2 separate regions of the Homo sapiens genome follow, and region 1 is linked to region 2. The links come from fine-mapping of genetic effects on gene expression. A gene starts in region 2. The other region holds a variant in brackets. All regions are shown on one strand. Distances are between the middles of the regions. Region 1 holds the start of LOC102724682 (a long non-coding RNA gene). Region 2 holds the start of EVL (Enah/Vasp-like).

Region 1 (16,605 bases), 120 kb after region 2:
CATATTGGGGTGGATGTAAGGGGAACATTCTGTACATAAGTAATCTGATATCAGCTTCTGGCAGAACAAACAGATTACTTATATACAGAATGTTATCCTTAGAGTTCAGAAATTTCACTGGAGTGCAAAAAAAAAAAAACCCCAGATAACCATAAAAACATAATAAAACATTAGAAGTATAAAATACTCTTCTATTATAGGTAAGTTTTAGCTTAAAGAAGAAATCGGCCAGGCGTGGTGGCTTACGCCTATAATCCCAGCACTTTGGGAGGCTGAGGCAGGATGATCACTTGAGCCCAGGAGTTTGAGACCAGCCTGGGCAACATGGCAAAACCCTGTCTCTACAAGAAATACAAAAATTAACTGGGCGTGGTGGTGCGCACCTGTAGTCTCAGCTACTCGGGAGGCTGAGGTGGGAGGATTCCCTGAGCCTTGGGAGGTCAAGGCTGCAGTGAGCTGTGATCACGCCACTGCACTCCAGCCTGGATGACAGAATGAGACCTGGTCTCAATTTAAATAAAAAAAAAAAAAAGAAAGAAATCAATGTTAAAACTACAAATTAAAAAGAAATTAATGAAAAGGAGAAAACTTCAGAGCAACACTTATGGGATACAGTGATACCTTAAATGCTTTTATTATTATACAACAAAGAATGTATATAAATGGACCAGGCGTGCTGGCTCACGCCTGTAATCTCAGTGCTTAGGGAGGCTGAGGCAGGTGGATCATTTGACGTCAGGAATTCAAGACCAGCCTGGCCAAGATGGCGAAACCCCATCTCTACTAAAAATACAAAAATTAGCTGGGCGTGGTGGCACATGCTTGTAATCCCAGCTACTGAGGAGGCTGAGGCAGGCGAATCGCTAGAGCCCAGGAGGCGGAGGTTGTAGTGAGCTGAGATTGCGCCATTGCACTCCAGCCTAGGTGATGGGAGTGAAACCCTGTCTCAAAAAAAAAAAAAAACAAAAAAAAAACCAAGGCTGGACGTGGTGGCTCACATCTGGAATCTTAGCACTTTGGGAGGCAGAGGAGGGCGGATCACCTGAGGTCAGGAGTTCGAGACCAGCCTGGCCAACATGGTGAAACCCTATCTCTACTAAAAATACAAAAATTAGCCAGGCGTGGTGGCAGGCGCCTGTAATACCAACTACTTGGGAGGCTGAGGCAGGAGAATCGCTTGAACTCAGGAGGTGGAGGTTGCAGTGAGCTGAGATAGTGCCACTGTACTCCAGCCTGGGTGACAGAGCAAGACTCCGTCTCAAAATAAAATAAAAATAAAAAAGCAAAACAAGCAATACATATATAAGTGAATTAAATATTCAACTTAAAACACAACAAAATAGGCCGGGCGCAGTGGCTCATGCCTGTAATCCCAGCACTTTGGGAGGCTGAGGTGGGCGGATCATTTGAGGTCAAGAGTTCAAAACCAGCCTGGCTAACATGGTGACACCCCGTCTCTACTAAAAATACAAAAATTAGCCGGGTGTGGTGGTGGGTGCCTGTAATCCCAGCTATTCGGGAGGCTGAGGCAGGAGAACTGCTGGAGCATGGGAGGCGGAGGTTGCAGTGAGCCGAGATCCTGCCTCTGCACTCCAGCCTGGGAGACAGAATGACACTGTATCTCAAAAAACAAACAAACACACAAAACAGAACAAAAAAACCCAGCAAAATAAATAAAAAGAAATTATGAGGAGGAAATGAATAAAGATAAAAGCTGAAAATAGTGAATTAGATAACTGAAATACTGAAAAATAAAATTAAAATATGCTTCTTCAAAAAAAAATTGAAAACTCACAATGTGCAAGAAATAAAAGAGAAAAAAAAGCACAGAACAGAAGGAATGAGAAATGAGACAGACTCACAGGGGCAAATGAGAGGAAGTTAATTTCCAGGGGATGTTATTGCAGTTGCATTTCAATAAATGTCCACCTGTTCTACATGCAATGGGTGATTTTCTTAAAAATCAAGTAAGTAGAAATGTTGGTAATAGGGGAACTTAAATTGGAAGAATTTTAAAACCAAACTATACCTGGGGGCACCTGGGTGGTTAACCACTGGGGGAAACCAGCCACCTCGGGCCGTCCTTGAAAAGATGTGCATTGTAACTGTGAATAACTGAGCAGGCTCCTGTCAAGACAATAGTTGAGAACCATCCCAAGACTGAGCCAGGAGCCCGGCAGGTAGACCCCGCTCTGCCACCCTTCACTGTGGGGATTTGGGCAGGTCCTTCCTCTCCCTGAGCCTCTGTTTCCTCCAGAGGCCGCTCCAAGATGGCAGACTCTGGAGCCCCGTGGGGCAGGTGGAGGTGGCCAGGGCAGGGGGTGTTAGGGAGGAGGAAGGAACAAGATAGGGTGAGAGTGCTTCTGAGTCACCACCACCTCTGACTGCTTCTGCCAGAGCAGCCCCATTCTTAACCTTATTACAGAGTGGATTTTCTTGTATGATTTCATCTGAAAAAAGGTTTTGCTGCTGGTATTAGTCAGGGTTCTTCAGAGAAACAGAGCCAATAGGATGTATAGTGTATAGACAAATAGAAAGAGATTTATTATGGGGGATTGGCTTATGCGATTATGGAGGCTGAGATGTCCCATGATCAGCCATCTGCAAACTGGTGGCCCAGGAAAGCGGGTGGTGTGGTTCCAGTTCACATTTGAAGGCCTAAGAACAAGGGGAGCTGGTGGTGGGAATCCCAGTCCAGGTCCAAAGGCCTGAGAACCAGGAGCTTCAACGTTCTGGGGCAGGAGAAGATTGATGTCCTAGTAGATGTCAAACAGAGAGAGAAAGTTCGCCCTTCCTCTACCTTTTTGTTCTGTTCAGGTTCTCAACAAGTTGGATGATGACCCCCCAGCCCCCCCACCCTACCCCCGCATTGGTGAGATCAAGCTTCCTTAGTCTACTGATTCTCTTCTGGAGACACTCGCAAACACCACCAGAAAGAAGGTTTGACCAGCTCTCTGGGCATCCCTTAGCCTAGTCAAGTTGACACATGAAATTAACCATCACACTGTTGAAACAAAGTGTGAAAACCAGGTGATCCCCCAACTTCCGAGCTACTTCCACGTCCAAACTTCGTAACATTCACCTGGCAAAGTTCACTGGTTTTGCTTTGATAACTTTCTGGTTTCTTTGAGTGATAAAGATGTTCATAATTTAGCCCCGAAATGGAGATGAATATGTGTGTGACGTGTGTGTGTGTGTGTGTGTGTGTGTGTGTGTGTGTGTGTGTGTTCCTTCTTTCGCAAAACCACTGCCTAATTTGGAATATAATTTCAACTTGCTTTTCCAAAATGACCTAGAGCTTGGCAAGAGCATAGGGCTGATGAGCCTGTGAGGTGGGTAGATAGCTTCCTCACACATGCCCGACTTTCTCCTTGGAGAATGATGAGGTTTACAGCCTTTAGGTAAAAATAGCTTTGTGTGGCTTCCGCCAGGAAGACACTTAAAAAGGGAGAGAGGATTAGGTTGCTAAAAAAGAAAAAAATCTACCAAATTGCTACCATAATTTTGGAATTCATTTTTGCAAAACATATCAGAAGACATAAAGATGATCTTGCCTGCTAACTCAGTAATTCCACTTCTGGGCATTTGCCTCAAAGAAATAAATTTAACTAAAAGAAAAGCTCAGTGGACAGCTGCTCACTGCAGTCTCCTCTGCCATAGCAAAACACCCAAAGCAAGAAAAGATGCTCAGGGTGAAGTGTGAAGGGCAAAGGGTACTGCAAGTTCAGAGGCTCACAGTCCACTCCTTCATGTATTCACCAAACACTTCTGATAACATGTGGGCACCAGGCACTGTGCTAGGTGATGGGAAAGAAGAGTGCCCGAGATGCAGAGTGCTTCCACCTTAGGGTGCTGATTGGCAGAAAGGCTGGAGGCACATAAACCTACACCCACAATTCAGCATGAGAAGGGAAGTACAACAGAGGTGGGGACACAGAGGAGGGACAAGAACCAGCCTTGGCACTCAGGGAAGCCTTCTCGGAATAAGTGACTTTTTATTTTTTTTTGAGACGGAGTCTTGCTCTGTCGCCCACACTGGAGTGCAGTGGTGCAATCTTGGCGCACTGCCACCTCCGCCTCCTGGGTTCAAGGGATTCTCCTGCCTCGGCCTCCTGAGTAGCTGGGACTACAGGTGCCTGCCACCATGCCCGGCTAATTTTTGTATTTTTAGTAGAGACGGGGTGTCACCATGTTGGTCAGGTTGGTCTCGAACTCCTGACCTCAGATGATCCACTGGCCCTGCCCTCCTAGAGTGCTGGGATTACAGGTGTGAGCCACTGTGCCCTGCTGGAAGTGACTTTTGAGCTGAGTTCTGAAAGTTATGGTGGTTGGCCAGAATGATGAGAGGAAGAGGGTTGGGGGCACAGAGCATGAGCAAAGACCAGGTGGCAACGAGAGGCTGCCGTGGTGGTTGGACAGAGAAAAGCTCTGTGGCAGGAGCTGAGAGATGGTGCTGGAGAGGAACCAGAGCTCACTGACCGGTCCTGTGTGTAACATGAAGGAGCTTTTTCCTAAGAATTTTTAAGCAGGAGAGTGATATGGTCAGATTTATGGTTTGGAAAGGTCACTCAGACTGCCTGGAGGAAGGTCAACATGGCTGCAGCCAGGCCAGCAGTGATGGTGGCCCTCCAGGGCATAGGCAGCATCCGTGGAGAGATGACGTGGACACGTGCCCTGGCTCCTCATGGAGCAGAGCCCTCGATTCTGGAAGAGGCAGAATGGTGCTGTGGTTGAGTGTGATCTTGGAAACCTGACTACATGGGTTAAAATCCCAATTGTTTCACTGTGTGACCCTCTCACAGGGCTGTTGAGAGTGTTGAAGGAGCCGTCATGCATAAGGCACCTCCAACAGTACCTGGCAAGGGGTGGGTAAGAGCTCGCTGAGTGATGCTATCGAGGTTGTCACTTATTGGCTGCTTGCTGATACAGGCAAGAGGAACACCCACATGCCTGGCATGGGCCACTGGGAGGATGGCATGCGGGTTTTTGGGGGAGAAGTGGATGAATTGGGTTTGAGCATGTAGAGATGGAGGCTCCAGTGAATGAGCAGATGGAGACATCCTGCAGGATGTTGAACACAGAGGTTTGAAGCTAGGAGACAGGCTGAGTCAAAGATAGTGATTGGGACCTTGTAAGGGTTGAAGAGGCGGCTGGCCCCAGGGAGCTGATGAGATAACCTGGGGAGAAGGTGGAGGGAGAAGAGAAGAGGGCCCCGAGAGAGCTCTGTGGCAAAGGGATGGACCAGGAAGGTTTTTTTCTAACAGGAAATATTTGAGCCTGTCTAAATGTTGATGGAAGGAGCATATAAAGCACAAGTACACTGTGGAGAAATGGCATTCAGTAAGGGTGGCCTTTAGTATTTTTTATTATCATCATTATCACCATCATTACCACCACCATCACCATCACCACCATCACCACCATCACCACCATGATCACCAGTGTGAAAGGAAAATATCTTGGGCCCCTTCAAGCTGGGAACCGCTCAGGACAAATCTGCCTCTCATTCTATTCAAAGTCATCCCTCTGCTCACAGAGATACATGCATATTCTGATTGCCTCCTTTGGAAAGACTTATCAGAAACTCAAAAGAATGCAACCATCTGTCTCTCACCTACCTGTGACCTGGAAGGGAAGGGGTGGGGGGGTTGCTTTTAGTTGTCTCTGCCTTTTTGCATGGAACTAATGTAATTCTTACATATATTCATTGACGTCTCATGTCTCCCTAAAATGTATAAAACCAAGCTGTGCCCTGACCACCTTGGCACATGTTGTCAGGACTTCCTGAGGCTGTGTCACGGGTGTGTCCTGAACCTTGGCAAAATAAACTTTCTAAATTAACTGAAACCTGTTTCAAACTTTGGGAGTTCACAACAGTATCACCACCATCATCATTACCATCATCACCACCATCAGCATCACCACCATCATCACCACAATCATCAGCATCACCACCATCACCATCACCATCACCTCAGCATCACCACCACTATCACCACCACTAACACCGCCATCACCATCACCATCACCTCAGCATCACAATCATCATCATCATCACCATCACTATCACCACCATCACCATCATGTCAGCATCACAATCATCCTCATCATCATCACCATCACTATCACCATCATCACCTCAGCATCACAATCATCATCATCACCACCATCATCAGCATCACCACCATCACCATCACCTCAGCATCACAATCATCGTCACCACCACAATCACCATCATCATCATCACCATGATCATCAACATCACCATCACCTTCATCATCACCATCACCACTAGCAGCAGCATCACCACCATCACCACCACCATGAAACATCACAACCATCATCATCACTATCACGCCGTAACCATCTCCACCATTATCACCACCATGATCACCAGCATCACCACATCATTGGCATCAACATTATCACCATTACCATCACTGCCATCATCAGCACCACCACCACCACCATCATCATCACCATCACAATCTTCAATATGAGAAGACTGTCAAGGAGCAGTGATATAGATTATGGCATCATGTTATGCAGCTGATAGGAGTTATTTATAACAAAGTTATAATGACATGGGAAAATGCCTATAAAGCTACATGAAAAAAGCAATAGAAAGCATTGTATATGCAATATGTTAACTATGGAAACACATCCAAAACTACTCGAAAAAGAAATACAGGAAGGAAATGTGCTCAGAAGTAATAGTGCTATTTCAGGGTGGTAGTGATATGGCTGGGCTTCTTTCTGAATTTGCTATAATGAGTCTGGAT[G/T]AGTTTTATGATTTAAAGCACATTAACCTTCATTTTCTAAAAAGAAGCAAAGGTGGGCAGCTGGGGGCTGCCCGAGCTAAGGTCACAGCAACCTTGGGTAAATCCCTGTTCTCCAAAGGGCTTTGATTCTGCCTTTAAAAAGAGGGAGTGGGCAAAAGAGCCTTTCCCCCGAGGTGTGCTGAGTCTCTGGCCTAGCAGTGATGTCCCAGGAAGGAGAAGCTGTGCAGTTAGACAGCCTCGGGGACCTGGCACTCTCACACCATGCCCTGGTATCTTCAGCCAGGGGTGTCCCCAGCTGGCTGCAAGTCTCAGGCCCTTATTCTGTCACCACACTCTCTGCTCAAAAGCCACCTCCTCTGCGTGCCTGGGCTTAAGTAGCCCTTGTGACTACCGGCCCCTCCCCGCCCATCTCCAGCGGGAACAGTCTCCTCAGCCTCTTCATTGCTTTCTCCATTCACAGTTCCATGAGAGCAAGAACTCTGGTATCCCCGGCCCCTAGGATGTGCTGCCTCAGGGTAGGGGTGGTGTTTGTTGGGTGAATAGATGAACACAATAGCCCTTCTCGACTCACAGGGCATATTAATGCGTCTAGCTCAGTGCCTCCCCAACACAGGGGCTATTAACATGCTTTGGAATTGGGTTTCACAGAACATACTTTGGGAGATGCTCCCCCAAGACGACCCCTGAGCGTCACTGCAGCCCCACCATTCTATAAGTGGTTAACAGAAACATCTCTGCTATGGGGTGGGCAGGTATCACGAGCATGGCAGACGAGCGTGGTGGCTGTGCGGCTGCCCTCTGGACCCCAGATCCCTATGTCTGGCTGAGTCCTCTCCCTCCCCTACTTCTGGCTGACGTCTGAGCCCTGGAGCTGCCTCAGCCTGGGAAAGAAGTGCAGGAGGGAACTTGCCAGAACAAGGTAGAGGCCTTTCCTGTAGCATCAGTTTCTGAGAATGCTTTCAAATGGAGGAGCAGTGATTGAAGGTGAGGAGGGGCTACCTCAGCTGCCACTGTGGCCAGGACTACAGGGCTGCTGCCTGCTTCTCCCAAGGATTGTTTTAAATGCAGACAAACGGATGCTGTGTTTCTAAACCTGCCTCCTCTGTGTGAATCAGAGTAAAATAAGCCACATGAAAACAGGGGAACCCCGTGCAGAGGAACCCCATGGGCGTCAAGGGGCAGCTGGGCAGTGTGGTGGTGATCACAGTCCATTCTATTTTCAGTCGCCACAGTCTGAGGGCCTGGGAGAACCTAAGTGATTCTGAAGCCCATTTGGCCAAAAGAATCTCAGAAATGTCACTGAGCATGTGACATCAGTCTTACCATGACAGGAAGTCTGGCCATTTCCTAGTTCGGTCCTGGTAAGGAGGGAGGAATCGTCCCAATGTTATAAGCTGAAATGTTATAACCACATTCTTTTTTTGCGGGGGTTGGGGGGTGCGGGGCAGGGATGGAGTCTCACTCTGTCACCCAGCCTGGAGTGCAGTGATGCAGTCTGGGCTCCCTGCAACGTCCGCCTCCCGGGTTCAAGCGATTCACCTGCCTCAACCTCCCAAGTATCTGGGATTACAGGCACCCGCCACCACGCTCGGCTAATTTTTGTATTTTTAGTAGAGATGGGGTTTCACCATGTTGGCCAGGCTGCTCTCGAACTCCTGACCTCAGGTGATCCGCCTGCCTCCGCCTCCCAAAGTGCTGGGATTCCAGGCATGAGCCACCATGCCGGGCCACCTCTGTATGATTAACCTTCTCCCACAGCATTTCCCAAGATGGATGTGTGGAACATTGATCCCTGGGCCAATCACTAATGCCTTAGGAGCAAAGGTGTCTGATGCTCGAGATGGGGAAATGCCCAAATGTATAACCTTCCTATGCCTTTCAGAGGCAACTGGCGCTCACATCTCTCTCTGTCATGTGCAGTGTGCAGCACAGTCTCAAATTATTTGAAACTCTAGCAGCACCCACTCTAATAATGCTCTGAAGACACCAGGCTGAGAACGCCAGCACAGAATGTAGCTGTGAGAACTGGGAGTTCCACCCTTAGCTCTGTTACCAACTTACTGAGTGACCTGGGGCAAGTACCTCAGTCTCTCTAACCCTCTGATACACTGGCTATGTGCTCCTGCTAAGTCTCATGTTGAATGGGAATCCCCAGTGTTGGAGGTGGGGCCTGACGGGAGGTGGCTGGATCACGGGGGTGGGGCCTGACGGGAGGTGGTTGGATCACGGGGGTGGGGCCTGACGGGAGGTGGCTGGATCACGGGGGTGGGGCCTGACGGGAGGTGGCTGGATCACGGGGGTGGGGCCTGACGGGAGGTGGCTGGATCACGGGGGTGGGGCCTGACGGGAGGTGGCTGGATCACGGGGGTGGGGCCTGACGGGAGGTGGCTGGATCACGGGGGTGGACTTCTCATGTTTTAGTACCATCCCCTTGGTGCTTCCTCGTGATAGCAAGTGAGTTCTTGCAAGATCTGGTTGTTTAAAAGCATGTGGCACCTGCTCCTCTCCGCTGTCTCTTGCTCCTGCTTTTGCCATGCGAACTGTCTGCTCCCACTTCACATTCTGCCTTGAATAAAAGCTCTTTGCTTTGAGGCCTCCCCAGAATCCAAGCAGATGCTGGCACCGTGTTTCCTGTACAGCCTGCAGAACCATAAGCCCGTTAAACGTCTTTTCTTTTTTTTTTCTTGAGACAGAGTCTTGCTCTGTCGCCCAGGCTGGAGTGCAGTGGCATGATCTCAGCTCACTGCAACCTCCACTTCCCAGGTTCAAGCGATTCTCCTGCCTCAGCCTCCCGAGTAGCTGGGACTACAGGTGCGCTCCACCGTGCCTGGCTAAGTTTTGTATTTTTAGTAGAGATGGGGTTTCACCATATTGGCCAGACTGGTCTCGAACTCCTGACCTCGTGATCTACCTGCCTTGGCCTACCAAAGTGCTGGGATTACAGGCGTGAGCCACCGTGCCTGGCCATGCCCAGCTAATTTTTGTAATTTTAGTAGTGGCAGGGTTTCACCATTTCAGCCAGGCTGGTCTCGAACTCCTGACCTCAAATGATCCATCCACCTCGGCCTCCCACAGTGCTGGGATTACTGGTGTGAGCCACCATGCCCAGCCATCTTGTCTTTATAAATTACCCAGTCTCGAGTATTTCCTTTTCTTTCTTTCTCTTCTTTTCTTTCTTTCTTTCTTTTTTTTTTTTTTTTTTTAACGGAGTCTCACTCTGTTGCTCAGGCAGAAGTGCAGTGGGGTGATCTCGGCTCATTGCGACCTCTGCCTCCTAGGTTCAAGCCATTCTCCCACCTCTGCCTCCCAAGTAGCTGGGATTACAGGCATGGGTCACCATGCACAGCTAATTTTTTTGTATTTTTTATAGAGACAGGGTTTCACCATGGCCAGGCTGGTCTGGAACTCCTAACATCAAGTGATCTGCTTGCCTCGGCCTCCCAAAGTGCTGGCATTACAGGCATGAGCCACCGCACCCGGCCTTCAGGTATTTCTTTATAGCAGTTTAAGAACAGCCTAATATACCCTCTTTCTTCTCTTCAAAGAGGGGCGATGGATCCTGCTTCTCGGGTCTGTATGAGATGAGATGAAATGACAATTCCTAATATGGATGAGGAAGTGGAGCAACAGAGACTCCCAGGCTGCCAGTGGAGCTGCTGTGGAGAATGGTTTGGCAATATTTAATGCATGCCCCAGAAAATCAGTAGTCCCATTTCCAGGTAGGATCCCAGATAATTTCTTGCAAACATGTACAAAAAACTTGTGCAATAATGTTTGTGGTTATGTAACTGGATGTTGAAATGAGCGTTCAGCCGAGGAGCCAAGATCCAATAGATGTGTCTTCCAGAGGCACTGTTAGACCATGAGCAGCAGTTACAAAAGAGGTTCCCGAGACACCTCCTGGGCATCCTCATCCACGATAAGAGTACTAAAGCGTTGGGAATTAGACATTTTCAGAAGTAATATTTGCAAGGAGGATTTCTTTGGGAGAAAGTTGAGCTGCTGATTCCAACCCTGCTTCTCCTGAGGGAGGACCAGGGAGGGTACTTCTGCCTAAGCCACTTGGAGGGCTTGAGGTGTGCCATCTGCGATTTGTGGACCAGTGCCTCAAAAGCGCCAGCTGCCCAGAGAAGGCTGCATGTGGAAGGCAGTAACTGCCCACCCACTGGTGCAAGGTGTGGGTGTGGGAGGCACAAGTGTCCCCTGAGACCAGATGTGAACCTCCAAGCAAGGATCCAAGCAAGGTCGTCTAAGATCCTGTCTAGCGGGCTTCCCCGGAGGGCGGTGGGATCTCCGCAGGAAGGAGGCCGATGGAGGCAGCCCTCCCGGTGCTTCAGGGCTGCAGAAGGAGGCCGCACCTAAACAGAACACCTTCATTCAGGTCCAGGGGACTGCAGCTGAGAGGCGATCAGCAACGTTGGGGTTCTCCAAGAACCTCTGAAAGCTCTCTCAGAAGGTCAGTTGAAACATACGCCCCACCCAGAAAGTCAACTAGAGTTTCCCTTTCTCTCTCCACACCCCAACCCTCCCCAGGTCAGAATCAGCCCTGGCAAGCTGGAGAGAGGGGCGGTGCTCTGCTCTTCTGCCACCAGGTGGCGCACCTGCAGTTGGCCGCGGGGCTGGAGGGGGCTTGGGAAGGGGAGGTTTTCAATTTATAACCCAAGTTCAAGGTCTTTTCATAATTACTTATTCAGTCTGCTAGAGCAGCTACTCGTGTTTTCAGCCTAAATAGCCAAATTTGTTCTTAACTGGCCCGCATTATAAGCCCAGGCGTCACCTGTGTTCCAGAGCCCCTGAATCTCACGTCCCCTCCGGCTTCCCGCACGCCGGGGTCCCCTGAGATCCGGGGCAGTCAGCGAGAAAGTGTGTGCTACCCGCAGCCCCGCCCCAGCTCCCTAGCGCAGGGTGGTGTGCGCGTGTGCCCCATTTTTATTGAAACTTAGAGTTGACCTGCGGACCCCCTGGAACGCCCCAGGAGGGCACGGACTTCCTGCAGGGGAGGCTCCCCTTAAACAAGCCTCCTTCCTTCAAGAGGGAACTTGGTACTCCGAAAGGCTTCTGTGGTCCGGTCTGGCTTGCCAGCAAGGTAGGGAAGATCCAGGCTGTCTGGCCCAGAAGGGGGTCTCCTGAGGTGGCCTAAAGCACAGCCAGGGATCCGGCAGGAGATGGAAGGAGCCCAGGTTTCAGACAGCACTGAGCATCCCGTCTGCAGGAGATGGGGAGGGGCAGGGATGCCACTAGGCATCGAGCAGCGGGGTCAGGGGGGAAGAATTGGGCTCTGGAGAAGGGTTCAGAACTGGGGGCTGCACGCTCGACACCCGACCCTGAACTGCTCAGCAGGGAGGCCAGGCAGCTGTTCTAGGCTCCTGTGCAGCCAGGCTCTGAGACACAGCATCAGGCTTGACAGCCCGAGAAACTGAAATCATCAAGTTTGTCAGCTGTGATGATGTCATGGTGTCCTCACACAAAGTGTCTTCACCACAGCGGCAGACTGAAGTATTTATAGGTGAAACGACATGGTGGCTTAGACTTGCTTTTTTTTTTTTTTTTTTTTTTTTTTAGAGACAAAGTCTTGCTCTGTCACCCAGGCTGAAGTGCAGTGGCGCAATCACAGCTCACTGCAGCCTCCTGGGGTCAAGCGACCTTCCCTCTTCAGCCCCTGAAGTAGCTGGGACTACAGGTGCACTCTACCACATTCAGCTGAGTTTTTAGTTTTTTGCAAAGATGAGGTCTTGGTATATTGCCCAGGCTGGTCTCAAAGTCCTGTAGGCTTGTTTTAAAAAATACTCCATCTTGGCCAGGCACGGTGACTCACACCTGTAATCCCAGCACGTTGGGAGGCTGAGGTGGGCAGATCACGAGGTCAGGAGTTGAGACCAGCCTGGCCAACATGGTGAAATCCTGTCTCTACTAAAGATACCAAAAAGTTAGCTGGGCGTGGTGGTGCGTGCCTGTAATCCCAGCTACTCGGGAGGCAGAGGCAGGAGAATTGCTTGAACCTGGGAGACGGAGGTTGCAGTGAGATGAGATCATGCCATTGCACTCCAGCCTGGGCAACAGGGCGAGACTCTGTCTCAAAAATACAAAAACAAAAACAAAAACTCCATCTCCCCCAAAAGTTAGGGGAGACAGAGGAAACAAGATTTTCTAAATGTTTGATTTTTTTTTTCTTTAACCAGGGGAAAGCATGAACACAGCCCCCATGACCACAGATGACGCAGCCGAGTTTCCCACTTTTGGGGAAATTGCAGGGGTCAGCACGTCTGGAGTGCAGTGGATAAGCCTCACCCCAGGAAGACCACTTTCGTGATCACGGCATCTCCCCTGCCAGGTGAGTACGCTGATCATTTTTAGTCTGGGTGAGAGGCTCTCTCTACTTTTGTGTATGTTTGAAATTTTCTGTAAAGTTTTTTTTTTTTTTTTTTCAGACTGAGTTTCGCTCTTGTTGTCCAGGCTGGAGTGCAGTGTTGTGGTGTCGGCTCACTGCAACATCCGCTTCCTGGGTTCAAGCGATTCTCCTGCCTCAGCCTCCCAAGTAGTTGGGATTACAGGCATGTGCCACCACACCCGGCTAATTTGTATTTTTAGTAGAGACTGGGTTTCACCATGTTGGCCAGGCTGGTCTCAAAACTCCTGACCTCAGGTGATCTGCTGCCTCGGCCTCCCAAAGTGCTAGGATTACAGGCGTGAGCCACCACGCCTGGCCAAAGTTTTTTTTAAAAAAGAGAATCTGCAGGAAGAACAGGTCTGGAGTCAGTTTTCACCTTGCATCAAGCGCATGTTCCCTAGCTCCTTTTCACCAAAACCTGTCCCCCTAGTTGTGGATTGGACCATCCCCATCTACCCTTTCCTATGCGCTCCTGTGCCTGTAAGATAGGATGACAGCAGCCTGTTCCCAAACCACAGAAGAGATGGCTAATGAATGGAATAGCCAACCTTTGGGCGTGGGAGTAATCATTCAAAAAAATGTGGGGGGCTGGGGAGATGCCAGAATGGGCTTTCCAGTGAAGCAAAGACAGCCCCTGCCAGGGAGTCCCTCTCACCCCGGCGGCCAGGACCTAAGATCTACCAATGCCAAGAATCCACTGAACTTTGCCTCTCCCCAGTTCCAACCGGCCTGGAAGCTTCCTCCACCTCCACACCCCCCGCCCCCACTGGGCTGACAGCCCAGTGCGACCCGTGGCCTCATGTTCTCTCTTCCCTACGTGGCTGAGGCTGTCCCCACCTTGCCTGGATCTCCTGCCTGGCACTGCCTGCGCATGGAGATGCTGGAATGCCGGTTGCTAAGCCAGTGCAGAGTCCACACTGGCTCCTGGCAAGCACTGCATCGAGCTGCCCTGCTGCTGCAGACGCAAGATCCTCCACGTGTGGGACTGTCTCCTGCTCCACCATGGCCCTCCTGGCTCTCGCTCCTCTCCGGCAGCCCACTTACCTGCCCTTGGATTCTGGAGTCCCCCAAGCTGGCTTGGGAGCCTCTTTTGGCCTGGGTTGAGCAACCTACAATCTCAAGCACACCTTGGCTCCCAAAACCAGCCTCCGGGGAGAGCCTCCCGTGTCCACCTCCCACAGGATGTCTGTGCTGGGCCTGCAAAGCCGAATGCCTACTTTGCCCTTGCAGTTGGATGTCAACTCGCTTCACCTGTTCCAGGCCTTACTACCCTCCTTCAGACGGTCAGTGATCTGCATTTTAGCTCTTGGCACTGTCATCCCACCAGAGAAGCAGTCAGGGACCTTGGACTCAGCCCCGCCCACATCCACTCCACCTGCGAGCTCTGCCGACGCCACCCCACAAACCTCTCTGGGACAGTGCTCCCACCTCCCCACTCCACGCCACCATCACTGCCCACTGAGATGACAGTAAAGCCCCCACCCATCAGCCCCCGGCCTGGAAGCCCTTTCAGAATTGCAGTGGGAACCCTTCCCTGCCTAACCCACCAGCGGCCCCCCTTTGCTGTTGGGATTTGGAATAAAGCCCTTAACATGCCCCCCGTGCCCTGCCTCTCACAAACTGCCCTGGACTCCTGTGCCCCTACCCTGTGCTCTTGAATTTCCCTCTCAAAAGGGTTTTGTGAGTGTTGGCCTCAGCCTCCAGTGCCTCTCTCCCCGCTCTCCCGGGTCATTTCCTTCTCTTTCTGCCAGGGAAACTTTCCGGAGTCCCCATACTCACTCGGGTCTTCCAGTTAGATGCTCTCAATTCCTTCCTGGCTCATATGGTGGTCATCTAGCACGCGGCTGGGCATGCGTTCTGCTAACCTCTGGCTCTTCTGATGCCATGTAGGCGCCCCAGGGCAGGCACTGGTGTGGTTTTGCCCGTCCTTATATTCCCAGCGCCCAGCACATGTCATTAAGACAAGTTTGGAACAAGTGCCTGTCTTGGGGAAGTTATTTCCTTCTCCAAGCCTCAGTGTATCTATCAAATAGCCCTGCTTTCCCTGCAGGCTGTCACAAGCCTACAAAATCCCCCAAACAAACACCCGCAGAATGACAGATGGCCTCCCTGCCCTGGTAGTGTCACTCTTCAAATCAACTTCCCAGGCCCTGGAGGCAGGCGGCAGCAGGCTGTCAGCCTTCAGAGTCCCCAGAGTGAGACAGGGTCTCATTTTGTCACCCAGGCTGGAGTGCAGTGGTCTGCTCCAGGCTCACTGCAACCTCGACCTCCCAGGCTCAAGCAATCCTCCCACCTCAGCCTCCAGGAGTAGCTGGGATTACAGGCACATACCACTATACTCGGCTACTTTTTAAAATTTTTGGTAGAGATGGGGTCCTGCTGTGTTGCCCAGGCTGGTTGTGAACTCCTGGGCTCAAGTGATCCTCCCACCTCAGCCTCCCAAAGTGCTGGGATTACAGGCTGGGCCACTGTGCCTGGCCTCTTTTATAATTTTCTTAACATTTTATCTTCTCTAGCTTACTTTATTGCAAGCGTGTACTATATAATACATATTGACAAAATATGTGGAAATTGTTCTCAGTGAGGCATCCAGTCAACAGTAGGCTATCAGTAGTTAGGTTTTTGGAAAGTAAAAAGTTATACATAGATCTTTGACTGCGTGTGGGGTCAGCACCCCTAACCCCTGTGTTGTTCAAGGGTCAACTGTGCTCTTTTGCAAGCTTTGAAGCATGTGAACGCCAGCACCTACCCTGTTCTTGAGGAAATCCAGCGTTCCCTTGATACTTGACCTTATCTAAACAGGACTGCCACGGAGACTTTACTCTGCAAAAGCAACAATTTCATCTTCACAAAGTTTCAAATGGTAAATAAAAAAAAATCCCCTGAGGGCTTTTTGTTCACTGGAAAATTCTCTCATGCTAACAAACTTAATTATTGTAACTACAAATAAATCGTAATCTTTCCTTTCCTTTCATCTTTCCTCATCTTACGTGCTGCAGGGAAGCTGGGCTAAGAGCTGCGCGGTTCCTGAGCCTCTCGTTCCGGGAGAATCTTGGAGGTTCAAGGCCTTGCTTGCCTGAGAGGTGCTGAGCAGTGGCACAGGGTCATTGCTCGCTGTGTTAACGCGTGAGTGAGTGAACAGTGAACACCTGCAAGGTTAATACTGCACTGGTTAAAGAATTTCAATTAAAATGAAATGAAGCCATTTTAAATCCATCAAATTCATTCATTCATTCATAATAAAGTGATTAATCATTATAAAGAGAGCAATAGTAGTTTACATATATATATAACAGTACATTTATCTAAAATAGTAGATGTGTGTGTGTTTGTATCCTTTGTCCATTATTGAGCTTGGCAAACAGGAGTACATAGAAATAAAAGCAGACCTTACTGACATGTAAGTCAATAATGAATGCCTTTTCCTTCCCTCAT
Region 2 (16,605 bases):
GTGGGTGCCTGTAGCCCCAGCTGCTCAGAAGCCTGAGGTGGAAGGATCCCTTGAGCTGAGGAGGTTAAGGTTGCAGTGAACCGTGTTTGCACCACTGCACTCCATCCTGGGTGACAGAGCAAGACCCTGTCTCCCCAAAAAAAAAAAAAAAAGAAAAAGGAAAAAGTGCTGTACGTGCAAAGTGTCACAAGAGGAGGGCATTTAGTTCTGCCCAGGGGACCCAAGGGATGTTGTCATGAAGGGGAAGCAAGACTTTTCAAGAGGAAACAAAGAACCATTTCAAGCAGAGGGAAGAGTGTCAGCAAAGGCAGAGTGGTGGGTGGGGGGACCTCAGTCATCACCCTGGGGCCTCATCACTTCTCAACACCTACCCAGGTGAATGAGGAAGCACACCCACGTTGCCATGTCCCAATTCAGTGACCGAGAAACAGAGACGCTTGAAATCACAGCCGCATCAGAACTGAAAAACATTCTGCAGTGATTTTCTTAGGAAACACGCCTGGAGAGGGAAGTAACCTGCCCAACGCCCATGGCTGATCCGCGGCAGAGCCTGGACTAGACAGCAACCTGACGCTCCGCCGTGCAGTAAGGCTCTTCTGCTCCACCTGGCGACGCAGCAAAACCCAGCTCCAACTTTTACTTCCTGCTTTGAAGCTGTTTTTCACTCCAACTTTTTAATCTGAAAAATTTCAAACCTACAGGAACATGTAAGGGACACTCTTTTACCTTTCACTAAACCTGCCCATGGTTAACATTTGCCACATGTGAGTTATCTCTGTCTTTCCCCTGAGCCATTTGAAAGTCAGCTGCAGATACCATGATACTTCAGTCCTAGGGACCTGAGCATACATTTCTTTAATATAAGGATATTCTAATATATAACTTAAATACCATTGTTACAACAAAGAAAATCAACACTTTACTAAAAATCTAATACAGAGTCCATACTAAAACTTACCCATGTAATCCCAGCACTTTGGGAGGCCAAAGCAGGTGGATCACCTGAGATCAGGAGTTCGAGATCAGCCTGGCCAACATAGTGAAACCCCATCTCTACTAAAAATACAAAAATTAGCCAGGTGTAGTGGCGCATGCCTGTAGTCCCAGCTACTCGGGAGGCTGAGGCAGGAGAACTGCTTGAACCCAGGAGGCACAGGGAGGTGTAGGATGCACTGAGCGGAGATAGCTCCAATGCACTCCAGCCTGAGCGACAGAGGGAGACTCCGATGCAACAACAACAAAAAAGTTACCCAATTTTTACAAAATGTTTCTGATTTTTTGGGATGTAGGATCTGCTCATGGATTACATTTGATCGAGCCGTCTGCTTACTCCCTTTCAAGCTAAGCTAGGATGTGAAACTATTTAAAAATTTTTCATTGATAAAGATGTTGTGTGTGTGAAGAATTCAGGCCAACTGAATGTAGACTGTAGGTTGGTTAAGAGGTGACTGCCAGATCTCCAATGGAAAGCTATATTTTCCCCTTAGTAATTATTAAATCATTTATAGGGTGCCATTTTTTTTTCTTAATGGGCACAGGTGTGAAACAGGTTTCATGCTATGAAGTAGACTTAAAATGTTTATTGTGAAGTACTTCAGGCCTGTGAGAAGTAGGTTCCCACGATCCCACCACACAGTCTAGGAAATCTGACAGCAAGTCATAAAGCTGTTTAGTTCAAGTGACGCCTGCATCCTCCTCCCAGACCCAGAGCCCCTCCTCTCTACCAGGGGGAACCGCCACCTTGCAGGTGGTATTTTCAATTCCATGCTTGCTGTCTGTAGTGCAGCCATACAACTGACTATTTTACACACATAGTTCTCAAACTTTTTTGGTCAAGAGAACCCCTTTACACTCAATTATTGAGGATGCCAAAAAGCTTCTGTTTTATGTAGGTTAAGTCTATCCATATTCACCTTATTTGAAATTAAAACTAATAATTTTTTAAAACACAAGAATATACAAGCAGACATTTCATTAGCTGCCACAGTGATGATGTCAAAACATCACATAGCTCTGGAAAATTCCACCATGAATTCATGAGACAAGAGCTGAAATGGCAAATGATGTCTTAGTAATATTATAAATACAGTTCTGATCTACAGACTCCTAGGAGGGTCAATCTCTGGAGTACATTTTGAGAACTGCTGCATTACAGCAATGAAAGACAATGAATTAGCTCTCTGCATATTAACATGGGAAACCCAAATGGTGACTGAGCCCCATTTTTGAGAGTGTTAGAATTAAAGAAAGGCTTTGGGTAAATAAAGTCTACATTCAGTGTTAAACCCTGACACCTTCTTTTCTATCCAAATTGGTTGCCCACATCATGGGCAATCAAGACGTTTGCCTTTTCTCCTTGGATGTCACCCTCTCAGATGCCTGGACAGCTGGTCTCCATTACTCTGTGAAGTCTGGTGCAATCTGGAAAAACACTCCAACCAACTGTTGGGGGAGTCTGACATTCCTAGACTGACCCTGTCTCATATGCATCTCCCATACTCTTTCAAGGCCACCGGCGTAGCCCTTTCTTTGGGGAGCCATCTGACAGCCACGTGGACGTTAAGGCTACTCAAACCTCAAAAACATTTATATATTTTGCTCTGTGTCTTCATCTCAAAATTTGTGTCCCCAGAGTCTGTGACTCTGATCACTTGTGAAGTGGAACAGGTTTTAGCACAGCCTTGGGACAACTGTAGAGGCCTGGCTTGGGCCAAGGATTGGGACAGTATGTTCAGCTCCAAGGATGAATCAACAGCCTGGGAATGAAGACCCCGGCTCTGCCCTTACAAACACCCCTGAAGACACAAGTAGCCACTTGGACTCTGTGCTATTTACTAGGCACAGGGACAAACATGAATGCATAACACAAGCGTCCTGCTCTGAAAGAGCTCTAGGCTGGTAGGAGAGATCCTGAGCCGACAGAGCATCGACAAGAGATACGCACGCAGGCACGGGGTGCTACAGGACAGACGAGGTCTCTTTTGTCTCTTGTGGTATTAACAGCACAGAATGACGGAGACTGCAAAATAGAGATCAGGAGGGCCTCGATTCTACCCTTGACTCTGCAAATTGGGACAAGTTTAGCTTTGAGAAGTTAAAGCTGAGAGGGCAGATTTTGATCCTCTCAGAGATCAAAAGCTCCGTCAAGTGACAACAATGTGACCTGGAATACGATACTTTGTAGGCCCTTGTTTTCTTTTCTTTTTGAGGTAGGGTCTTGCTCTGTCACCAGGGTGGAGTGCAGTAGTGTGATCACAGCTCACTGCAGGCTTGAACTGCTGGGCTCAAGCAATCCTCCCACCTCAGCCTCCTGAGAAGTTGGGACTATAGGCTTCAGGCATGCACTATCACATCTGGCTAATTTTCATTTTTTAATTTTATTTTCTTTCTTTCTTTTTTTTTTTTTTTTTAAGAGAGGAGGTCTTACTATGATGCCTAGGCTGGTCTTGAACTCCTCAGCTCAGGTGATCTACCTGCGTTGGCCTCTCAAAGTGTTGGGATTACAGGAGTGAGCCACCATACCCGGCCAACCCTTGTTTTCTTATCTGTAAAGTGGCAATAGTGATACCAGACCTCAAAGGATGAGAATTAAATAGTATGTATATCATGTAACTAGCGTAATGGTTGGTGTATAACACTGAGAAAAGCTGAGCTGTTGTTATTTTCCTCCTCTGTGGGTTCAGTTACCAAAGCAAAGCCATTGGACTACACTAGTTCTCATCCATTTTCTGCCCCAGCCCACCTGAGTATCGTAACATTCTCATGAGAATAACCTAGAATCTCCAGAGGAATGTTTCTCAACTAGAGGCACATGGGATTCTTTGAGACAGAGGAAGGCAGAGAAGCTTCAGAAGCTCTCCAAATGATTTGGCTACAGGTCTCTAGGGAAGTGCGGGTTCCCATGGAGAGTGAACGGACTACGTGATCTCTGAGGGCTTGTTCAATTGCCTCTGGGACTCTCTGACTTGCCCGTGAGGACTGGAAATACCTGTGAGAAAGGAAACACCAGGTGTTCCTGGAGACTCCTCCAAACCCTCACACAAAGGCGTACAATTAGGTGCGAAGGATTGTAAGCTGAACCCCGGCTGTGCGAGACTTCTTATATCTTTACAGCTTCAAGATGTGCAGCACAGTGGAATAAACAGTAATGACTGTGCCCAAGCAGCCACAGCTCCTTCACTACCTGACAGCAAGTGAAATGTCTGTTTTTCTGGTCTCTTCTCTAACATGCCACACCAGGAAGCTCCACTGAGTAGCAACTTTGGTAGCACAGGAATCTTTAGGACCATATATCAAAGTAGTTAATTAAATCCAGCAGTTCAATAAATGTGTATTGCCAGGCAATGTTTTAGGCACTGGGGATACACCACTGAACAAAATAGGCGAAAATCCCTGCCTTCTGGGAGTTTACATTCTTGAGGGGTAAAGACAGTATACAGTAGAACAAGTAAGTTCTATAATACGTTAGAAGATAGTACGTGCTTCGGAAAAACCCACAGCCTACCAAAGACAACAGAGAGACCAGGGAAGGAAACGAAATTAACTGGCTGGCCCCAAAAGTGGCAGACATATCACACATCCATATCACGTTTCCTGCTGCTGCACCGCGACCTCAGCTACTTCCTGCTCAGGTCAGCCTTGTTCAACCCACATTTCCTGGGAACCTGTGCTGCTAGGCCCACACCTCTACAGATTCTTCCAGCTAGCACCCCAGCTGCCCCAGCGTGGTGAAAGGAATCACCACCCACCTAAGCCATGTCTGACTCATGTTTCCCCCACGCCCATGTGTGATCCACCAGATAGTCCTGGAGGCTACAGCACCACGGCACTTCCTGAATCTGGTGACTTCTCACCGCCTACCCTGACTGCTCCACTGCTGGCCCAAACCACCCTCACCTCTTACCTGGATGACTGCGGTAGCCTCCCAAGAGGTCATCCTGCCTCCATTCTTGCCACACTGCCAGCCATTATCCACACAGGGCCCAGAGTGATTTTCTTAAGCTTCTATGAGATGTCTTTCCCTTTGCTTCAAACCCTCCCTCCAAAGGCTTCCCCTAACTAAATTCTGACATACGCGCTAAATTCAGCACAGCTCGCAGGCTTTGCCGTTGGGCCTGATAAAGCCTTCTGTGCCCTTATTTGCCTTCACTCTTCCTTCTTCATGTTGCTCCAGCCTCTGTATTTTTCTTGACCCTTGAACCCACCAAACCATTCCTATCTCAGGGCCTCGTCCCCAGCTGAGGATACTTGCTGCCCTTTCCACCCCAAAACCTTCAGATTTTAGCATGGCTGCCTCATGTCCCCACATGTCCCCTAAGGCGTGGCCCAGTCACTCTCTACCACACTGCTCTATTGTTTTCACGTCTCTTGTTGATGGTTTCTTGACTATATTCTGCCTCCCGACTCTGCCCTCAGTTTGAGGACAAGACTGCCTGTCTTGTTTACCACTGTGTCCCTAGCACCCAGAGCAGCCGCTGGGTGACTGGTTGCCTGTGATGCCTGCCAGTGCCTTCTAAAAAATCATCCCTATTCTTCAAAGTTCACCTGAGATCCCACTTTCTCTTTGAGGTCTTCCCTGACAGTCCCCAACTTCTCAACTCTTACTGCCCCTCCTGTCTATGCTTATTACTCTCTGTGCTGCAGGGTCCTCACAGCCAGTCGCCTCCTCATTTCTGTGAGTGCTGTCTTCCTCACTCCCTACCAGTCCCTGAGGACAGAGGCAGCTCTAATTCAGGCGTAAGAGCAAAAGGGCAAAGCATCTGTGGTCAGGAGGCACAGGTTCAAGTCCTGGGTCTATCACTCACTGGCTATGTCTCTTGTCAAGTTACTCTCTCCTGTGAAACAGAAACAATAAAAACAATGCTAGCTGGGTGTGGTGGCCCACACCTGTAGTCCCGCTGAGGCAGGAGGCTTGCTCGAGCCCGGGAGTTTGAGGCCAGCCTGGGCAATAAAGCAAGACCTCATCTCTAAAAAATACAAAAACAAAAACGCCCCACAACACTACCTTCAGGATTATTGCGATAACTAAATAACGTCAGTGAAAGCATTCTGTACGTTGTCATGCACTCAAGAGAATTCCCAGCTCCTAATCCAGTCAGGGCTTGGAAACTGTTTCTTGATTGGTGGGTAGCCAGAGCTAGAGCTGGTAAGATATATTTTCACATTTAAAAGGTCCTTTGTATCCCCACCACAGGCGCCACGGTATCCCCATGTGTCAGTCAGCATGAGGAAAAACGAAAAGTTCACAGCTCCTATGGCTGCTGACCTTGCAGCTCCACGAACGCTGCTTCCACCAGGACTGTCACTATGGTGCCAGGCCAGGGACCTGTGGCAGAGTGCAAGCAGCCTTGTACGGGGGAGGGACGCACCAGAAAACCTGGGCTTTTGCTTTGGTTCAGCCACTACTCCGCTCCCCGTACACAAATTCTGCTCCACACTGGGCCTCAATTTCCTGATCTGCGCACTCAAGAGCTGGGCTAGATTAGTGTAATCTTCAGACTTGAAAGTCATCACCACCACCAACAATGACTGTTTTTTCTCAATGAATTATCAAGGAATACATAGAAAACATAAAAGCAGAGTTATTTTGGCTGAAGTGGAGAATAAGGTGCCCAAAACATCTTATCTACTGTAGATCACCTCCAAGGTCTTTTCAAGATGGAAATTTCTAGGATTTCTACGATTTTAAAATTGAAAAAGAAATTGCTGTGCCTCATTTACTTTTGATATAATTTTCTGCAATTAGTAATTGACACGGTAGAATAAGCTGCTAGAAGTTTTCACAATGTAATTTACAACTGAAAATGACTTTGGAAGTTGATATGCCTTTGAAATGAAAAGCATTCTGTTTTCTAAAGCTCCACTCACGAGTCCTCTAAAGTTAAAGGAAAGTTACTAAAATGACAGGATCAGAAATAAAGCCAACTGGAAAATAAGCAGCCCTGGACAAGTTCTACCTATCACCACGTCAATTTTAACAACTCACTGCAAGCTGCTTCTGTGCCTGTGTAGCGTGCTGCGAAAACCACCGGATGAGGCCAACCTCGTTAAACCCTGGTTCCATTCCTTCCCCAACCTGCCATGTGACCTTGGACAAACCCCACAACTTTTCAGAGGTTTTCTCAGCTACGAAACAGGAGTGATGACAGCGTTCTCATCAATCTAACACGGCTAAAAGATTCAAATAAGAAAACTGGCGAAATGGCACTTTGGAAATTGTGAAATAATTTTCAAAGTGAGGGATTGTTACTTTATGCTAAAAAACAAAGCTGTCATGAGTCAATCAAACAAATGCCCCAAACCCCACAGGATAAAAGTCTGTCTGTCCTATCATCTATAATCTTTCAGAGTTGTAGGGCAGGGGAGAGGCAGGTCCAAAATGTAATCTCACCTTTAGAGAGAACAATCTCAATGAGGAGTGCGGTTTGTAGACTGGCTGGTATTCACACATGTGCTCAACAGCAATAGCCTAAGTCCACAAGTCTCTCAAGTGGAGGGTCAGGACTCTTGCTATTAAGTTCATGAAGTTCCTATCATAAAAAGAACCCTCTCTGCCTATATTTAGAAAAAACAACCAGTCTCGGGTCATTCTAGAGAGAAGGGCCAGGACTCACCAAATGTACCTCTGAGCTAAACAACAATTCCCCTAGATGGCTCAGACCCTCCTCCCTATAATGAGAGGCAGGTGCTAATTTCTAAGTAAGTCCTTGACTCAGAAGCCATTAAAGGTCACAGGCATCAAGAGACACAGGCCTGTGTAATGGAAAGACCAGCGGCTAGAGAGGGAGCAGACTGTCACTAACCTGCTGTGTAACCTCATGTAAGCCCCCTGCCCTCTGGTCATGGACTTCTCGATCAGTATACTAAGGGGACCTGAGATAATTTCTACAGCCCATTCACCGTTAAGATTCTAGGTTTCCTCTTGACATCCCTCTGTCCCCTGCACTGGTTCCAATACTCACCTTGTGGCCATGGCTGAAAAGTGGCAGCACAGGGAACCCTGAGGAGGCGAGTCCTGTACTCCCACCAGCCTATGTTGATCAGAGGACCACAGACCCTCTGAAGACAGCAACTTGATTTTTATAGCCTACTTAAAACCAAACAGGAAAAGGAAGCTGAACCAGAGACAAAGGGGAAACAAACCCAAGTGAAAAACTGAAACCTAGGTAGAAAATAGAGAAACAAGAAGCTAACACTGCAGAGCCCCACCAGCGTGGGCGGCTGAGAGGCACTGCACAGGCCCAACCCCCCACAGCTGGCAACCTCAAGCCTCTAAGTGCTTCCTGCAAGGGTGCAAGGGTGGGTGAAGCCTGCTGGAGGTAGGGGCCAGGTCATGGTGCTGGCCCCCCACTAACTAGCTCTATAGTCTAAGTCAATGCCACTTAAGATGTCTGAGCTTCAGTTTTCCATCTGTTATAGAAAGTGCAGGCTCAGCACAGATGACTTCCTATAGGCCTTAAGAAAAGGCTACAAGAACTCGGAAGAGTCCCCACTGACTCTCCAGAGAATAGAAGACTAGATGATAAAGGCTATAAGCTGATCAAGTCTTTTTTTCTTTTTTGAGACAGAGTTTCACACTCCTGTCACCCAGGCTGGAGTGCAATGGCACGATCTTGGCTCACCGCCACCACAGCTTCCTGGGTTCAAGCGATTCTCCTGCCTCAGCCTCCTGAGTAGCTGGGATTATAGGCATGTGCCACCATGCCCAGCTAATTTTGTATTTTTAGTAGAGACGGGGTTTCTCCATGTTGGTCAGGCTGGTCACGAACTCCCGACCTCAGGTGATCCGCCTGCCTTGGCCTCCCAAAGTGCTGAGATTACAGGCGTGAGCCACCGCGCCAGGCCACTGATCAAGTCTTCATATTTGACTCTGGAACAAAATTTGTACTTCTACCGAGGAGACAACTCTCTCTAATGATGACATTTAAGTCAGCAATTTAGAGCCTGAAAGGAAAACACTTGAGGAATACTGGAAACTTGGCTTTGTCACTTGTTTATTAAGTGGGTGGCCTCAACTGTAAAATGGGGTTATACTTATTTTGCCTATCTCCACAGGGTTCTCATGAAGGTAAGATCCAGTCCAATCTTTCTTTCAAAATCTACTGAGAACTCACTAAGAAGCATGCACTGTGTTAGAAATCACAGACAAAAAATTGAGAACGACTGTACTTGTCCTTAAAGGACTTTTATGGTTTAGAAAAGAAGAGGTTGATAATGTTAGCAAATATTTAATAGATCCATTAAAATATTATTGATATAGTGAAAAACAGCTGTACAGAGTACAGTACAAAAGAAGTATCAGTTCTAATTGGAGAGATGAATGCACTTTGAATGCTAAAAATGCATTTTAAAAGGCTTTTAATGATATACATTTCCCTTTAAGCACTGTTTTAGTTGCAAACCACAGTTTGGATGTATTGCAGTTTTCTTTTTTCTTTTGGTTCAAAATATTTTTAATTTTCTCTAGTGATTTCTTCTTTTATCCATGGATTATTGATAAGTGCTTCGTTAAATTTTGAAATATTTGGTGTTTTCCTATATCTGTTGCTACCTATTTCCAATTTAATTCTACTGGGGCCAGAGAACATATTTGGTGTGACTTCTTCCTTTGTTTTTCCTGGTATGATCTCAATCCTTTCACATTTATCAAAATGTGCGTTATGGCCCAGCATGCAGTCTACCTTGGCGGATGTAGCATATGCACAAGGAAAGAATGTGTATTCTGAAACTGGTCGGGTGCAGTGTTCTAGAATGTCAATTAGGTCATGGTGGTTAATAGTATTGTTCAGAACGTCTACGTCCTTGTTACTTTTTGTTGCTGTTGTTTGTTTTTGTCTAATTATTCTATCAACTGCTGAGGGAAAGGTCCTGAAATCTTCAACTGTGACTGTGGATTTCCCTCTTTAATTCTGTCACTATTTCTTGAAGCTCTTGTTAGGTACATTTTTCCATGCAGCATTGGTTTTCTGCGGCTGCTGTAACAAATTACCACAAACTGAGTGGCTTATAACAACACACACTTATTATCTTAGAGTTTTGTAAGATGATAGGAGGTCAGAAGCCCAACATCATCAGAAGTTCCACATAGGTCTCTCTTGCTCACCTCTCTCAGCTTCTGGACACTGACTGCATTGCTTTCTCATAGCCCCTCTGTCCACTTTCAAAGCACGCAGCAGTGCTCCGACCCTTCTTCCACAGTGACATCTCTTTCTGACCGCGGTGTGGACAGGTTCTCTACTTTTAAGGACTCGTGTGATTAGACTGGACCCAATGGATAATCCAAGATAACCGCTCCATCTCAAGGTCCACAACTTTAATCACGTCTGCAGAGTCCTTTTTGCCATGTAAGGTAACATTTTATTTATTTACTTTTTTAGAGGCAGGGTCTCTTGCTGTCACCCAGGCTGAAATGCAGTGGTGTGATCATAGTTCACTGCAGCCTCAAACTCCTGGCTCAAGTGATCCTCCTTACCTCAGCTTCCTGAGTAGTTAGGACTATAGGCACACACCATCATGCCTGGCTAATTTGAAAACAGTTTTTTAAATAGAGATGGGGTCTTGCTATGTTTCCGAGGCTGATCTCAAACTCCTGGCCTCAAGTGATCCTCCTGCCTTGGCCCCCAAAGTGCTAGGATTACAGGCATGAGTCACCATGCCCATCCCATGTAAAGTCACACAGTCACAGGTTCTAGGGATTACGGCGGGGTGATGGCATTACTCTGCCTACTACCCATCCTTTCACTTTCAGTCGATTTGTATCTTTGTATTTAAAGTATGTCCTATAGGTAGTGTATGACTGAGTCTTGCATTTTCACCCAGTCTGACAATTTCTATCTTTTAATTGGGGTATTTAGTCTATTTACATTTAGTTTATTGATGTAGATGGATACAGGTCTACTACTTTGCTATTTGTTTTCTGTTTGTCTCATCTGTTTCTGGTTCCTCTGTTCTTCGTTTCCTGTATTCTTGTGGGTAAACTAAATACTTTTCAGAATTCCATTTGAATTTCTCTATTGACTTTTTAGCTATACCTCTTTTTTTTTTAGAGGTCTTTCTAGGGATTACAATATACATTCTTAACTTTGTAGGGTACACTTAGAGTTAATATTGTACCACTTCAGTAAAATGTTAAGAACTTCATAATTGCATAATTTCATTCTCCATTCCCATCCTTTATGGTGTAGCTGTCATATGTTACTCAAAATACAATGTTACATATTTTTGTTTTGGACAGTCATATATATATATATACATATATATATATATACACACAGCTGACTCTTGAACAGCACAGGTTTGACCTTCACAGGTCCATTATACTACTATTTCTTTTTTTGAGATGTGGTCTCACTCTGTTGCGTAGGCCGGCGTACAGTGGTATGATTACAGCTCACTGCAGCCTCAACTTCCTGGGCTCAAGCAATCCTCCCATCTCAGCCTCCCAAAGTGCTAGGACTACAGGCATGAGCTACCACCATGCCTGACCCAGGTCCACTTGCACATGGAATTTCTTTTACCTCTGCCACCCCGAGACAGCAAGACCAACCCCTCCTTTTCCTCTTGCTCCTCAGCCTATTCAATGTGAAGATGACAAGGATGAAGAACTTTAAGATAATCCATTTCCAATTAATGACTAGTGAAACTAATGAAAACATATTTTCACCTATGATTTTAATAAAATTTTTTCTCTAGCTTAATTATAAGAATACAGTGTATAATACACATAATATACAAAGTATGTATTAACCAACTGCTTATGTTATTGGTAGGGCTTCCTGTCAACAACAGGCTCTTAATAGCTAAAATTTTGGGGGATGCAAAAGTTTAGGTGGATTTTCAACTGTTCGAGGGGCCAGTACCCTAACCCCGGGATTGTTCAAGTCATGTGCGTGTGTGCGTGTATTGAAGAAATAAAAGTCTTTAGGTTTACTCATATATTTCTCTTTTCTGGTAATCTTTATCCATCCCCGAGCACTTGAATTTCCTGGTATCTTTTTTTTTTTTTTTTTTTTTGCAGCCTGAGGAACTTCCTTTAGCATTTCTTTTTTTTTTTTTTTTTTTTTTTTTTTTGAGACAGGGTCTTGCTCTGTCACCCAAGCTGGGTGATCTCAGCTCACTGCAACCTCTGCCTCCCAGGCTCAAATGATCCTCCTGCCTCAGCCTTCTGAGTAGCTGGGACTAAGGACATGTGCCACCATGTCTGGTGTATTTTTGTATTTTTTGTATTTTGTAATTTTTGTATTTTTTGTAGAGAAGGGTTTCAACATGTTGCCCTGGCTGGTCTCAAACTCCTGGTCTCAAGGGATCCGTCCACCTCAGCCTCCGAAAGGGCTGGGATTACAGGCGTGAGCCACCATGCCTGGCCTCCTTTAGGATTTTCTGTACAACAGGTAAGTTGGCAATACATTCTCTTAGTTTTCTTTTATCTGAAAAACATCTTTGTCTTCAAGCTTCAAAGCACTTTTTGTGAATAGAGAATACTGAGGTTTTTTTTTTTTTTTTGTCTTTCAGCACTTTAAAGGTATTGTTTCATTGTCTTCTGGCCTCCATGGTTTCTGAGAAGTCAGCCATCATTCACATATAATGTATGCAATGGATCCCTTTTCCTTTGGTCATTTTTAATATTTTCTTTTTCTTTCGTTTTCAGCAGTGTGACTTTGATGGGTTTAGGTGTGGTTCTTTTTGCATTCATTTTGCTAGGGTTTCACTGAGATTCTTAGGTATGTAATTTAAGGCTTTTCACCAAATTTGGGAAATTCTGGTCATTATTTCCTCAATTATTTTTCTTCTGCCTCATTCTCTTTCTCCTCTTCCTCTGGCACTCCAATTACACGTATGTAGACCTCCTGATATTATCACAAGGCACTGGTAATTCTTTTTAAAATATTTTCCCATTTTTCAGATTAGATATCTATTGATCTGTCTCCAAGTCCACTACCCTTTCTTCTGGATCTCTGATCCACTTTTAGTCTCATCCAGTAAATTTTTCATTTCATTTCCAGTAGTAGAATTTTCACTGGGCAAGTTTTTTTTTTTTTTTTTTGAGACGGAGTCTCGCTCTGTCGCCCAGGCTGGAGTGCAGTGGCGCGATCTCGGCTCACTGCAAGCTCCGCCTCCCGGGTTCACGCCATTCTCCTGCCTCAGCCTCCCGCGTAGCTGGGACTACAGGCGCCCGCCACCACGCCCGGCTAATTTTTTGTATTTTTTAGTAGAGACGGGGTTTCACTGTGTTAGCCAGGATGGTCTCGATCTCCTGACCTCGTGATCCGCCCGCCTCGGCCTCCCAAAGTGCTGGGATTACAGGCGTGAGCCACCGCGCCCGGCACTGGGCAAGTTTTTTATAATTTCCATTTCTCCTTTGGGATTTCCTGTTTGTTCACTTTATCCACCTTTTACTTAAAGTCTGTGAACATATTTATTATGGGTAATTTGAAGAACTTGCCTGCTCGTTTCAACTTCAGGAGCATTTCAGGGTCTACTGACTGCTTTTTTCCCCTTAAGTATATGTCATATTTTCTGACTCTATATGTCTACTAACTTATGATTGTATGTTAGATACTGTATGATACATTGCAGAAAGTCTGGATTATGCTATCTTTCTTTAAAGATGTGAAGTCTGTTCTGGTAGTCAGGGAAATTACTGGCAGATCCTTTTGGTGCTACCAAGCTTGGTTCAAACCTTTCTTCAGTTCTATTTCCATTTTGAACTTAGCCCTAGGGTATCCCCCTCCTCTGCAACCACCCCCCCATCTGACTCAAGAGCACAGTCCTACTCCTAAAGTGTGACAGTTCTGGGATCTCAACTGAATGCCTGAGGTGTTCTGGGCGGTTTCTTCATTCAGGTTAAGCCGGATCTGCAACATCTCCCAGAACTGAATGACCTCTGGCATCATCATTCAGCTCTCAGCCCTACAGCAGGCGATCTCTGCCAGGCCTCATGAAGAATCTCACTCTGTACATGCACACCCAGCCCTCAGCCAACAATCCAAATAGAATCCTTACACAGAACTCTGCTGTCTTTGCCCTGTCACAGGGCTTCCATTTCTCTAGTTCCTTGCCCTGCAAAGTCCAACTATTTCAGTGGCGTAGAATTCTAATTTCTGCCCACTGAGCTGACTAAAATCACCTTTCCATTTGGGCTCCACCACTCCATGCCAAGACTAGATAGTGACTGCAGGCAGAAAGCCAGGGGCTTCTCATGGTGTTTCTTCTCTCAAGAATCAAAGTCCTATCTTATCTGTCCAATGTCTGAAAATGGCAGGGATTTAATATCTTCTATGAGTCTCAGTACCCTTTGTATATTCAGTTGCTTCACATATTTTACACAGTTTCATAGTTGCTTTTGTCAAGAGAGCAAGTCATTACCATTATTCTGCCATGGCCAGAGGCAGAAGTCAAATATGATTATTAAACTACCAAAGGGTATTCTTTTTCATTTTCTGAAGATGCTAGCCTAAGAGTAAACATCTTTTCTGTGAGAAGTGCCTTTCAGTTTCACCCCTCATTTCCTCTGTCCTTCACACGTTACTACTGTCTTTTATCAGTTTCACTAGGTAGGTAACAGGTAAGAGTGAACCTTTTGGCACTCCAATTACACGTACGTAGATAAAATAGAGTACTATTTTAACTCTATCATCTAGCTTTAATGAAGCACTTGAGAAGAATTATGAAAAGAAGCAAAAAATGTGGCAAGCTTTCTGAGTAGGGTGCTATGAGATAGGGATTCCAACCCTTGCTTTGTTATTGACATGCTGTATGTTCCTGGGCATTCAGGTCTCTACTTTGACCCTGGTGTCTCCAGGTCCGATGAAAAAAAAAATGATCTTATAAATAACCATGTACTGCAGGAGTGGTACCAATTCCTAAATCGTTCATGTCAGGGCAATAGAAAATGTTGGAAAGATAGAATAGGAACTGTTGGCACTTGTGACGCAATTTAGTGAGCAAGTTAAGAAACGTATCCTGTTTGAGGTAGCATCTTATAATGTGAAACCATGAATTGCGCTCAGCACCTGGTATACTGCTTAGGTAGTAGGTACAGTGTAAGTGGTGATCATATGAATAACTATGCATAGATGAATACATGAATGAATGAATGAATGAGGAAGACGGGCATCAACACTCACACAGGATACTGATATTAAATCCTAAGGCATTTGGCTTTGGATTTTGAAAACAGTAAATGCTCAATAAACAACAACTGTGTTGACTTGAATTAAAAGATGTGCTTTCCATGTGTCCAGACTCCAAGAGAAGGCAGAGTGGGCTGAAAATAAATCACAGAGCTATACTAGAAGACACTCTACTTAGGAGATCTAGTTCAAAAACTTGCTGTGGTGACTTGGGAAAGTCAACTTTCTTCTGTGGATTTTAGTTTTCTTTTCTGTAAACAGACTAACCTCACTTCTCTTTCTTTCTCATTGGGATGTTTGTGAATGAAAGGGTCTTTCACTAACAAGAAATGAATTATGTTTGTATAATAATGACATTTCATGAGAATTTGTGTTAAGAAGGCAGGGTGTTTTGAGTACAAAGCCCTTGTGTCCTGGGAGTAGAGAAAAGGAGGACAGAGAAATGGCTACCCAAAATTAGTTACAGTCTCTAACACATTATGAAATCCTATTAACAATGCTGCATTAGGCTTTTTAAATATAATATTTTATATGTGCTATCATTATTTGACTCCTAGAACCTCAACTATGGCTCCAAAAACCAAAATGGAAATTGGATCTGCCAGAGATTCTGGTATTCTCAACCACTTTGCCTGAGAGACATTTCTTTAAAAAGTTTACACTAAAATAGCTCAGCCAGCCACAAGACGCTAAAAGTTGCCTTTTCCTTTCCAGTTCACTCACAGTTCAGTTCCAGCTCTTGCTGATAGGGCCTGCCTAAGCCTGCCTGCTCTGTGAAGTCCAACTGTTTCTTATACCAGAGGGAAGACATGAAGAACAACAAACTCAGATTAAAAAAAAAACAAACTCCAAATCATTTTTCTGATGATCTGAGACTTGTCCTCAGAAAATGTTTTATTTCCAGAGTTACAGCATCTGGAAAGAAAGTGTGAATGGCCAAATAAAGAAACCCCGATGTCAGCTGAGCAGTCTCTTAGGGGGACTGTAATATGGCTCTTCACCGATATCTGTGACCTTAGACTTCCGTGGACTTGGTGTTCATGAGGACACTATGCTACATATAATCTTTCTCCATATACATCTTTCATCATATAAAGGGAGAAGTAAAGGGGAAAGGTAAAAATCCCACCACTGGACTCCTGGGAGTGGGAAATCTAGTTTCTAGCACATGCCCTGGTGGTTCAGGCTCCTGTGCCTTGTAAACACAGTTGTCCTCACCTCCTGAAACAACCTCTTACCCCATCTACAGGCAAACTTGGGTTTGTCCTTCAAGATCCAATTTGCCTGTATCTTCTTTAATGAAGTGTTTACTGAGCCCCCAGGATAGAGAAAATTATTCCTGCTGCTGTGCTACTTCTGTATTTTGAAATTTTATCTATTTAGTGGTCACAGAGCATTACCCTTTAGGAAGGGACTATCATTTTTTATTCATCTTTTATAATCAATTGTGGGCAGCCCAATTCTTGGTACATGG

The links.
Region 1: its variant is fine-mapped to the expression of EVL in lung (TOPMed, PIP above 0.99). The same link has a PIP of 0.9 or more in aorta, pancreas, prostate, stomach and thyroid.

The regions. Positions count from the first base shown.
Region 1 is chr14:99,941,831-99,958,435 of GRCh38, reverse strand. LOC102724682 (a long non-coding RNA gene) reads left to right here and starts at 9,135. Exons shown (of 6, transcript XR_007064328.1): 1 at 9,135-9,236; 2 at 10,328-10,501; 3 at 12,962-13,113; 4 at 13,889-14,453; 5 at 15,973-16,033; 6 at 16,170-16,432. EML1 (EMAP like 1) reads right to left here. Exons shown (of 22, transcript NM_004434.3): 22 at 16,376-16,605. It also overlaps the pseudogene RNU1-47P. RefSeq lists enhancers at 7,395-7,896, 11,395-12,323. The variant G/T (reference allele first, on the strand shown) is at 6,783.
Region 2 is chr14:100,056,868-100,073,472 of GRCh38, reverse strand. It overlaps EVL (Enah/Vasp-like), which reads right to left and starts at 8,051. Exons shown (of 14, transcript NM_016337.3): 1 at 7,962-8,051. The coding sequence starts at 7,972. LOC124903379 (a long non-coding RNA gene) reads left to right here and starts at 9,429. Exons shown (of 2, transcript XR_007064329.1): 1 at 9,429-10,343. RefSeq lists enhancers at 4,627-4,921, 3,901-5,100, 5,676-5,745, 7,178-7,247, 7,308-7,387 and 8 more.